Linked DNA regions of Homo sapiens: region 2 is linked to region 1. The links come from fine-mapping of genetic effects on gene expression. A gene starts in region 1. The other region holds a variant in brackets. All regions are shown on one strand. Distances are from middle to middle. Region 1 holds the start of MB21D2 (Mab-21 domain containing 2). Region 2 has its middle 30 kb from the start of MB21D2.

The links. PIP is the estimated chance that this variant, and not a neighbour inherited with it, causes the effect.
Region 2: its variant is the best candidate, but not a certain one, in a credible set for the expression of MB21D2 in monocytes after Pam3CSK4 (Quach 2016, PIP 0.75).

What each region holds. Positions count from the first base shown.
Region 1 is chr3:192,915,344-192,919,734 of GRCh38, reverse strand. It overlaps MB21D2 (Mab-21 domain containing 2), which reads left to right and starts at 1,879. Exons shown (of 2, transcript NM_178496.4): 1 at 1,879-2,105. The coding sequence starts at 1,895. RefSeq lists a silencer at 1,574-1,933 and an enhancer at 2,584-2,913.
Region 2 is chr3:192,945,827-192,950,217 of GRCh38, reverse strand. No RefSeq gene overlaps it. Among named protein-coding and RNA genes, the nearest start is that of MB21D2, 30 kb to the right of the region's middle. The variant C/G (reference allele first, on the strand shown) is at 2,222.

The DNA.
Region 1 (4,391 bases):
CTGGGCTACAGAGGAAGACCCTGTTTCAGAAACAAACAAACACACACACACACAACCCAAAACAAAAAGCAATGATGAAGCAAGGTCAAAATTCATTAGCATCATATGAAAGCTTCTGAGAGTAGGTTCTGAGGAAGGAAAAGTTGCCACCAGCTTGAGGGGAGGGTCTCCGGAAAGCTGTAAGAAAAAGGCAGACGCGGATTGGTTTTGGTGTAAACGGAGTAAAGAAGAGAGGAATTCCAGGGGGAGGTCAGTGGTCAGGTCTGTGTTTTCTAAAGATCACTCTGGCAACAAGTTGTTACTAGATTGAGGAACAGTGAAAGAATTAATAACAATAATAGTAGAAGCTGATAATAGCTAAGTACTTATTATGTCAGTCCTTGAACTAAGTGCTTGACCTGTTTTATCTCACGTAATCCTTAAAACAACCTGTGAGACAGGAATTATTATTCCCATTTTATAGGGGAAGGCATGGAAGAGTCCGTACTTCCTTCCATGTCTAACAAAACAATTTGTATTCTTGGCCATGAGAACTCGGGTAAGAAAGTGAAACAGACCTGATCTAAATCAGGGACTGTGGGATAGAGAAGAGAGATTTTGGAGAATTAGGGAGGAAGATAACCTATGTTTCTCACAGCCAATGGGCCTCCTAAGTGTTTGAATGATACACCCCATAAACACTAAAACCACCTCTGAGACTCTATTCTGCCTAAAGGACTATGACTTAGATTGAACCTGCCTTGTCATGTAAGCCTAACTCCATGGTAGGAGCCATGTCTTTTGGTTATCACTGTCACATTCTGTCACTCCATCTGGCAAATGGTGCGTACTCAAATTTTATCTGTTGAATGAGAAAATTTTCATCTTGTCATCCAACATTTCTTGGAACCTGGGGCAATACATTGTTTCCCCTCTCCCACACCCACACTTCAGTTTCCCTATCTTTATATTAGAGTAGGTTGAATCTCATTAACTCATTATATGTTAAGATAAATAAGCTGTTATTCAGGTCATTAATTACCTTGGGCAAAGGTAGGGATATCTAGGGGTTAGTGGGAGTGCCAATACTGGGTTAGATGTGGACCCTCTTTTTTTATACGCTCAATCCTATCATCTTGGCAATCCAAGAGGAAAAGGGTAGAAGACAGGTTTCATATTCCTTAAGGCAGTTTCCTTTACTATTTAAAGGTATTGGAGTTCTTGGGATAGAGAGGTAAACGCGCACAGAGATGTCCTCCCCCAGGACACCGCCCTTAAAATCAAACGGAGGAAGACTTTCTTCTCCTTGAATGCGCTTGGCAAACCCTGCCCAGAAAGGGGATGGGGGGACGGCCGTGGAGGTGGAGAAAGAATGCATCCACACCTCGCGCGTCTTCCCAAGTACGGATTGGCAAGTGGTATATGCGTGCAGACCTCTGTCATTTATTTATTTTCCTTTCCACTGGGTGCGCTGTCCCTTTAAATGGAGACGCTGGTGCTGGCTCCGTAACACCGGAGCCGGCAGCTTGTTGATTTCAGAGCTGGTGAATTTCACATTGTTTCCACTTCACTTTCCTCGCCCGGGGGAGGCTCCAGTTGGCTCTACGACCGCCGTTGCCGCTGCCAGAGAGGGCCAGGGCAGGGCAGGGACGCGCAGCATCGGGGCGGGCGTGGGGCCGGAGAAAAGGGTGTCGGGGCCACACACGCACCCTCGCTGCAGTCCAGCTCCTCCCGAAGCTCGCACGCCCAGAGCGCACGGAGCGGGGGACTGCCCGCCCAGACGCCCGCCCGCCAACCCGCCCACGAGCCGGGGCCAAAGCCTGGGAGCCTGCGAGGGGAGGAGGCCCAGGGGGGCGGGGTGGGGGGCGGGGGTGGGTGCCGCGCTGCCGCGGAGCTGCTACTCGGCGCGTTTTGCATGAAGATGGCGGCTCCCACCGCCAACAAGGCAGCCTCCCTGGGCTGTAACAACAAGCCTGCGTTCCCGGAGCTGGATTTCAGGTCGGGAGCTCGGGTGGAGGAATTGAACAAACTCATCCAAGAATTTACGAAGCACGACCAGCGGGAATACGACGACCAGAGAGCGCTGGAGATTCACACAGCCAAGGATTTCATCTTTTCCATGCTGGGTAAGGAGGAAAAAGGGGGAGGTGTGTGTGCGTGTGTGTGTGTGATGGGAAGCGGAGTAGAAAACCCATTGCCGCTTCTCGACCTCTTCCCTTCTGGGTTGCCTTCCCGAGCCGGTGCCTTGGGTATAAGCCATCTCTGTTCCGCCTCTCTCTTCTTTCTCCGCCGAAAGCCGAGCTGCCTGCCCTCCCCTCCTTACTATACTTTACGCCGGGTCTCCCTTTCCCCCTGTTCGCTTGCTCTTTTGTTAATTTCTCCGCCACCTGGGGCTGGCAGGCAGGTGAGGCGTTCGCGGTGAAGCGTTGCACTGTTGGGGGAAGCCCCTGGAAGCGAGTGCAGTCCAGGTGAGCCCCTGAGGTGCCTTCAGTTGAGGGATTTGGCTGCCGGAGGCAGGGACCTCCGCTTTCCCGACGCCGGCTCTTGGGTGCTCTCCCGAGCTTGGGAGCGGAGACGGCTCAGGGCTCTGGCTTGGCGCCCGAGCGACAAGTTGCTTCTGTCGTCTCGCGGCGCGGCGCTGTCATGCCGAGCCCCCGGTGGCCAAACTTGTTGGGTGTTCCCGAGTAACCCGCTGAAGTAGTCTAGGCGTCCGGAGTTCCTGCAACTTTGATTTGCAAATTGACTTCTCTTATGAAGCGATCGGAAGCATTTCCGGTGCTTCTTCAGGGCTCTCGCTGAGCTCGGAATTCTTAATTCCCAGCTCTTCCGTGACTAGGCGCGGAGCTCTGGCCGCAGAGGAGCGCCGGTTCCCTGCTCTTTGTGTATTGTCTTAGCGCTGGCCGAAAGAGGTGCCCAGAGTTTCCAACCGCGGAGACGTCGGGGGCTAGAAAATGTGTCCCCCACTCCCACCTCCAGCCCCTCACCTACGGCTCCTGAAACATGATTGAATGCTGTGTAAAGGAACATAATTGAGCCAGGCCCGGGAGACCGAGCCCACCCTCCCCAGGTGTCCTGCCGTTGGGATTATTGCTACTGAGGTGTAGTGTGAGTTTGCCAGGCGCCTGGGTTGTAACTTGCGGCTCCGCCAGCGGATCCGTGGCTGTCAAGCGGTGCGTGGCCGGCGGTCAACATTCCGAAGAACTGGTACTCCAGGGTAGCGCTGCTCTAACGCTCGTCTCTGGGTGCTCTCTACAAATAGATAAGCCAATTTTCCAGGTGTTGAAAAATTTGATTGGGAAAGGTCTTTTGGCCACAGACTAAGACAGGGCTTTTCTCTTTCTCCTGCAATCTAATTGGGTTTCAGCCGGCTGTTGCTGCTTCTATCCTGGGATACCTTCTTCCTTCTAGGTTTTCTTCTTCCTCACTGCCCAAGGACGGGGTAATACAGACTGAACGTGTCTGTGTCCGCTGGTAGTTGTTCACGCGTTGGGAAGTTAGATGAAACATGTTAAAACTCTAGGCTGGTTTTTACCTTTTGCGCCGCACTCTTCAAGTGTGTCTTACGTTGCGTATGAGGTTGAAAAACTATTGAGAGATTCAGCCGTTCAACTATGTAGATGAATAGATGAATTAAATATATATATATATATATATATAAAACCTGGTAGGAGTGAGCTTCCACAGGGAAGCCTAAAATGCTTACAAAGCCAAAAGCCAACACAGTGATTGTCAGGAAGGTGGGGCCACACACAGAAGGCTGAGCGCAGTTACTTAAGTTGTTTAGTTAATCATAGCCTTTCTCTGTGGCATAAATAATGGAAGTCTGCCATTGTGTTAATACAGCCCCCAGATCAGTTCTGATGTCACTTGCGTAGGTCATTTACTAGAAGAAGGTACTGGGTCACCACCAGTTAGGGTAGTCATGGGTCAGGAAATGGGATAATGTAGGGAGGGTAAATTTAAGTGCCTGGCTCATGAGGAACTTCTGTGCTTAACTCCAAAGCTGATACACTGAATCAGCAAAGCTTTTATCCAAATATAAAAAAGTAAATTATTCTAGGGTGCTTAATTTTTGCATGTGTTTAATGCCATGGGTGGCATTGTGTTGACAGGTAAACTAGATTTGCTTCTATTCCTTTTTACCCAGTTGACCTTGCAAGCAGTCTTTCTTGCCCCCTGGGAATTTAGCATTTCCACCTGCAGGAGAGAAGATTCAAGAGAGTGTCATTTAAGCCTTTTGCCCCTCTGGACACTAGAAGGCAGATGGCGAAATGAGCTTGCTTGCCTGTGTGTGGTGCTGCATTCATTTGCGAGTTCCTTGCTTTCCTTTAATGAGATGCTGGCTGCTCTACACAAGTGGAGGTTTGGCGACAGCAAGGGTTCCTATGTGGATTTACTTTTTCTAAAGCAGA
Region 2 (4,391 bases), 30 kb before region 1:
AATCTCCACCTCCTGGGTTGAAGTGATTCCCCTGCCTCAGCCTCCTGAGTAGCAGGGACTACAGGCACGCGCCACCACACCCTGCTAATTTTTTGTATTTTAGTAGAGACAGGGTTTCACCATGTTGGCCAGGATGTTCTCGATCTCCTGACCTCATGATCCGCCCTCCTCGGCCTCCCAAAGTGCTGGGATTACAAGCGTGAGCCACTGCGCCCGGCCACGATGTAGATACTCTTATACACATTTTAGGTGATGAGAAAACTGAGGCTTAAGGAAAATAGTACCTGGTTCAATATAGCGCAGCTATAAAGTAATGGAATCTGGATTCAAGGTCTTGATAATTATTAGTTCTTTCATTAAATTTTTTTTTAAATTTTATATAATAAAATTGGCTTTCCTGATGTACAGTTCTAAGAATTTTAATACGTGTGTAGATTCATGCAAGCATCACTACAATCAGTATACAAATCAGTACCATCGCTTTACCCATTTGTAATCACACCTTCCTCCCATGCTAACCCCTGGAACTCAGTGATCTGGTCTCTGTCACATAGTCTTTTTCTTTGTGAGAATGTGACATAAATGGAATTTTGTAGTATATAACCTTTTCGAACTGACTTCTTCCACTCAGTATAATGTCTTTGAACTCCATTCTTGCTGCTGCATGGAACGATAGTCTCTTCCTTTACATTGCTGAGTAATTTTCTGTAATACAGATGTATCACATTTATTTATCCATTCATCTGTTGAAAGAAATTTGAGCTGTCTCAGGTTTTGGAGATCATGAATAGAGTCGCTATACGCATTACATGTAAGATTTTGTGTAAAGGTAAGTGTTTGTTTTGTGGGGATAAATACCTAGGAGTCAGGTTGTTGGGTCACATGGTAAGCATTTGTTTAACCTTACAACTGCCAACCTTTTCTAGAATGGTTGTATCTTGACTTCTCACCAGCAAAATATTACAGCTCCAGTGCCTCCACATCCTTATCAGCACTTGGTATTGTCAGTTACTGTTTTCTTTTTTTCTTTTCAGCCTTTCTTTTCCTTTTTTCTTTCTTCCTTTTTTTTTTTTTTTTTTTTTTTTTGAGATGGAGTTTCACTCTTGTTGCCCAAGCTGGAGTGCAATGGTATGATCTCGGCTCATCGCAACCTCCACCTCCCGGGTTCAAGTGATTATCCTGCCTCAGCCTCTCAAGTAGCTGGGATTACAGGCATGTGCCACCATGCCAGGCTAATTTTGTATTTTTAGTAGAGAGAGGGCTTCACCATATTAGTCAGGCCGGTCTTGAACTCCTGACCTCAGGTGATCCGCCCACCTCCGCCTCCTAAAGTGCTGGGATTACAGGCATGAGCCACCGTGCCTGGCCTAATTTCAGCCTTTCTAAAAAGTGTTTAATAGTATCTCATGGTGGTTTAATTTGCATTTTTTCTATTTGAACTTCTTCATGTGCTCATTAAAGAGATGCTAAACATCCCTTTCTGTGCTTATTTGCCATCTATATCCTCTTTAGCAAAGTGTCTATTCAAGATATTTGCCCATTTAAAAAAGTGTGTTTTTCTTACCATTGAGTTTTAAGAATTCTTTATATATTCGGAGTCCTTCATCAGAAATATGATTCACAACTATTTTCATCATCCAGTTCATAGCTTGTATTTTCATTATCTTAATAATGTATTTTACAAAGCAAACTTCTTAAATTGTTATGAAGTCCAGTTTATCAACTTTTCGTTTTAACGGATCATGTTCTTGGTGTCCTGTTTGAGAACTCTCTGACAGGAGGGTCTGGGTCAGAGAGAAGGAGAAAGTGATGGGAAGACACTACGGTACTGGCTTTGGTGATGGAGAAAGGAGCCACGAGCCAAGGAATGCAGGCCTCCCCAGAAGCTGGAAAAGACAGAGAAACAGTTTCTCCCCTAGAATTTCCAGAAGGATCGCAGCCCTGCTGACATCTTGATTTTAGCTTAATGAAACCCATTTAAGACTTACCTTCAGAAGTGTAAGATAATAAATTTGTAATAAGTAAATATTTTTAAGTCACTTAAAAAAATAAATAAAACAAAAAGCCTGTCTGCCTAACTTCAGGTCAAAAACATTTTGGTCCTATCAATTCTTTGAAAGGTTTTATAGGGCTGAGCCTCGTGGCTCATGCCTGTAATCCCAACACTTGGGAGGCCGAGGCAGCAGATTACTTGAGCCCAGCAATTTGAGAGCAACCTGGG[C/G]AACATGGTGAAACCCTGGCTCTACAAAACATAAAAATAAAAAATTAGCCGGGCGTGATGAAACCCACCTGTAGTCCCAGCTACTCAGGAGGTTGAGGCAGAAGGATCCCTTGAGCCCAGGAGCCCCAGGCTGTAGTGAGCCGTGTACTTGCCACTGCACTCCAGCCTGGGCGACCCTGTCTCAAAAACAAAAAGAAAAATAAAATAATAATAATAAAAAAAAAAACTACCAAAAACGGCTTTATAGTTTCATGTTTTACATTTAGCTCTATGATTCATTTTGAATTATTTTTATATAAAGTTTGAAGTTTTGGTCAAAGTTCTTGGCTTTGCATATGGATGACCAATTGTTTCATCATCCTTTGTTGAATAGACAAATCCTCTCTTCCATTAATTGTCTTTGGAAGCTTGCCAGAAATCAATTGACCATATTTCTACAGATGTCTCTGTGCTCTTGATTCTGTTCCACTGGTCAATACTGTCCTGAGATTACTGTAGCTTTATAGTAAGTCTTTAAATCTGATAGTGTGTGTGTAATTCTCCAAGTAGTTAATATTCTGAACCAAAAAACTATATGGCACAGATAGATCAGCTAGTGTCCTCTTTTCTTTTACCACCTGGAGGATGTTAATAATATGGTTTTTGATGTACAAAGGGGTGGAAAAGCAATGGGTCTGCCCTACTTTTCAGCTCAAGAGAGAAAAGTCCGGCTGTCGTTTGCAGCTTTTGCTCTTCCTGAACCACCTGGAAGCCCCCGTTAACCTAACATTCACTGTGCATTCATATATATTTATGCAACATACTTATTGAGTGTGTCTCTGTATTGGGCACTATTACAGAATTTGGGGAAGAACAGAAGAACAGGGCACACAAGGTTCTCCCTTCTTCAAAGATTATGTCAAACAGCAAACAAATAATATCTAAACAAAGAACACAAAACCAGATGGCCATTCTTCAGAGAACCAGAATTGGGTAAGGTAAAAGAATGACTCAGGTATCTTAGATTGCATGGCCAGAGAATGCTTCTCTGAAGAGGTGACATTTACACTGAGGTTTGAAAGACAAGAAGAAACCAAATGGGTGAACATGGAGAGGAAGAGTATTCTAGACTGTTAGTCTAAAAAGCTGTAGATGAAAACAAGTTTAGCATGTTTGAGAAACAAACAAAAATGACTGAGTTAGCTAGAAAGTGGTGAGCCAAGGAAAAGGTGTGAGGCAAGTTCTGAGAGGTGAGCAGGGGCAGGTTGCAGGAGGGCTCTGCCACCAGGACAAGAAGTTAGGCTTGACTCTAAGTGCTAGAGGAGGCCGTTAGAGAGTTTAAACCAAGACCAGTCACATGACCAAACACAGAACTGGGCTCCCAGATAAACAAATGAGAATAGGGCGTATCACGAGTCTTCCCAATCCCCATCCCCATAGAAAAATGTTCTCTGCTCACATTAAGCTTTTCTCCACACACACCACACACACACACACAATGATGTACATGAAATTCTAATGAAGTCAAGTTCAGGACTCCGTCTCTCATAACTTGCATATCATTTCTTCCTACTCTGGCCTCCAAGAGCGTGAGGAGAGGAAAGGGAAGAGGAGAGAGAGGAAGAAAAGTCACTTTCAGACTCTTGCTGCGTGTCAGGTGCTGCTGAGGGCCCACTACAGAGGAGGTTGAGCCCTGAGTGTGGGACAAAGCAGCCCCCAAAAGAGGAGCCCATCATCTCACCACCCCATGAGAAGTAGAAGCAGAGACCTCTGTTTGCAGAGACAGTGAGTTGTTTCATCACAGCTGCTGCTCCACGGTTCCCAATCTTCATAAACAATGAATTAAAGGAAAATTGGATTAAAATTATAGTATAAAGAAAAGTCTTGCATGGAAAGACTTTCCAGCTCTGAGGAGTTATAAGCACTGGACTGTATCTCTGAGCAGAGGGAAAAGAGAGTGTATTTATTCTATTTATTTAAACTCCACTTTGGATAAATAACGACCTCTGTGGAAACGTAAACACAGCACCTCGTCCCCATTACAGAATCGTGATTTCCAACTCTATGTCATCTCTTCTATCTTCACTGTGTATATATAATTTTTATGGGGATATTATCCCTGGATGCTTGCTTTCTAGAGTTCTGTTTTTGCTTAACATTTTACATATATTTTTCTACGTAGCAGCACAGT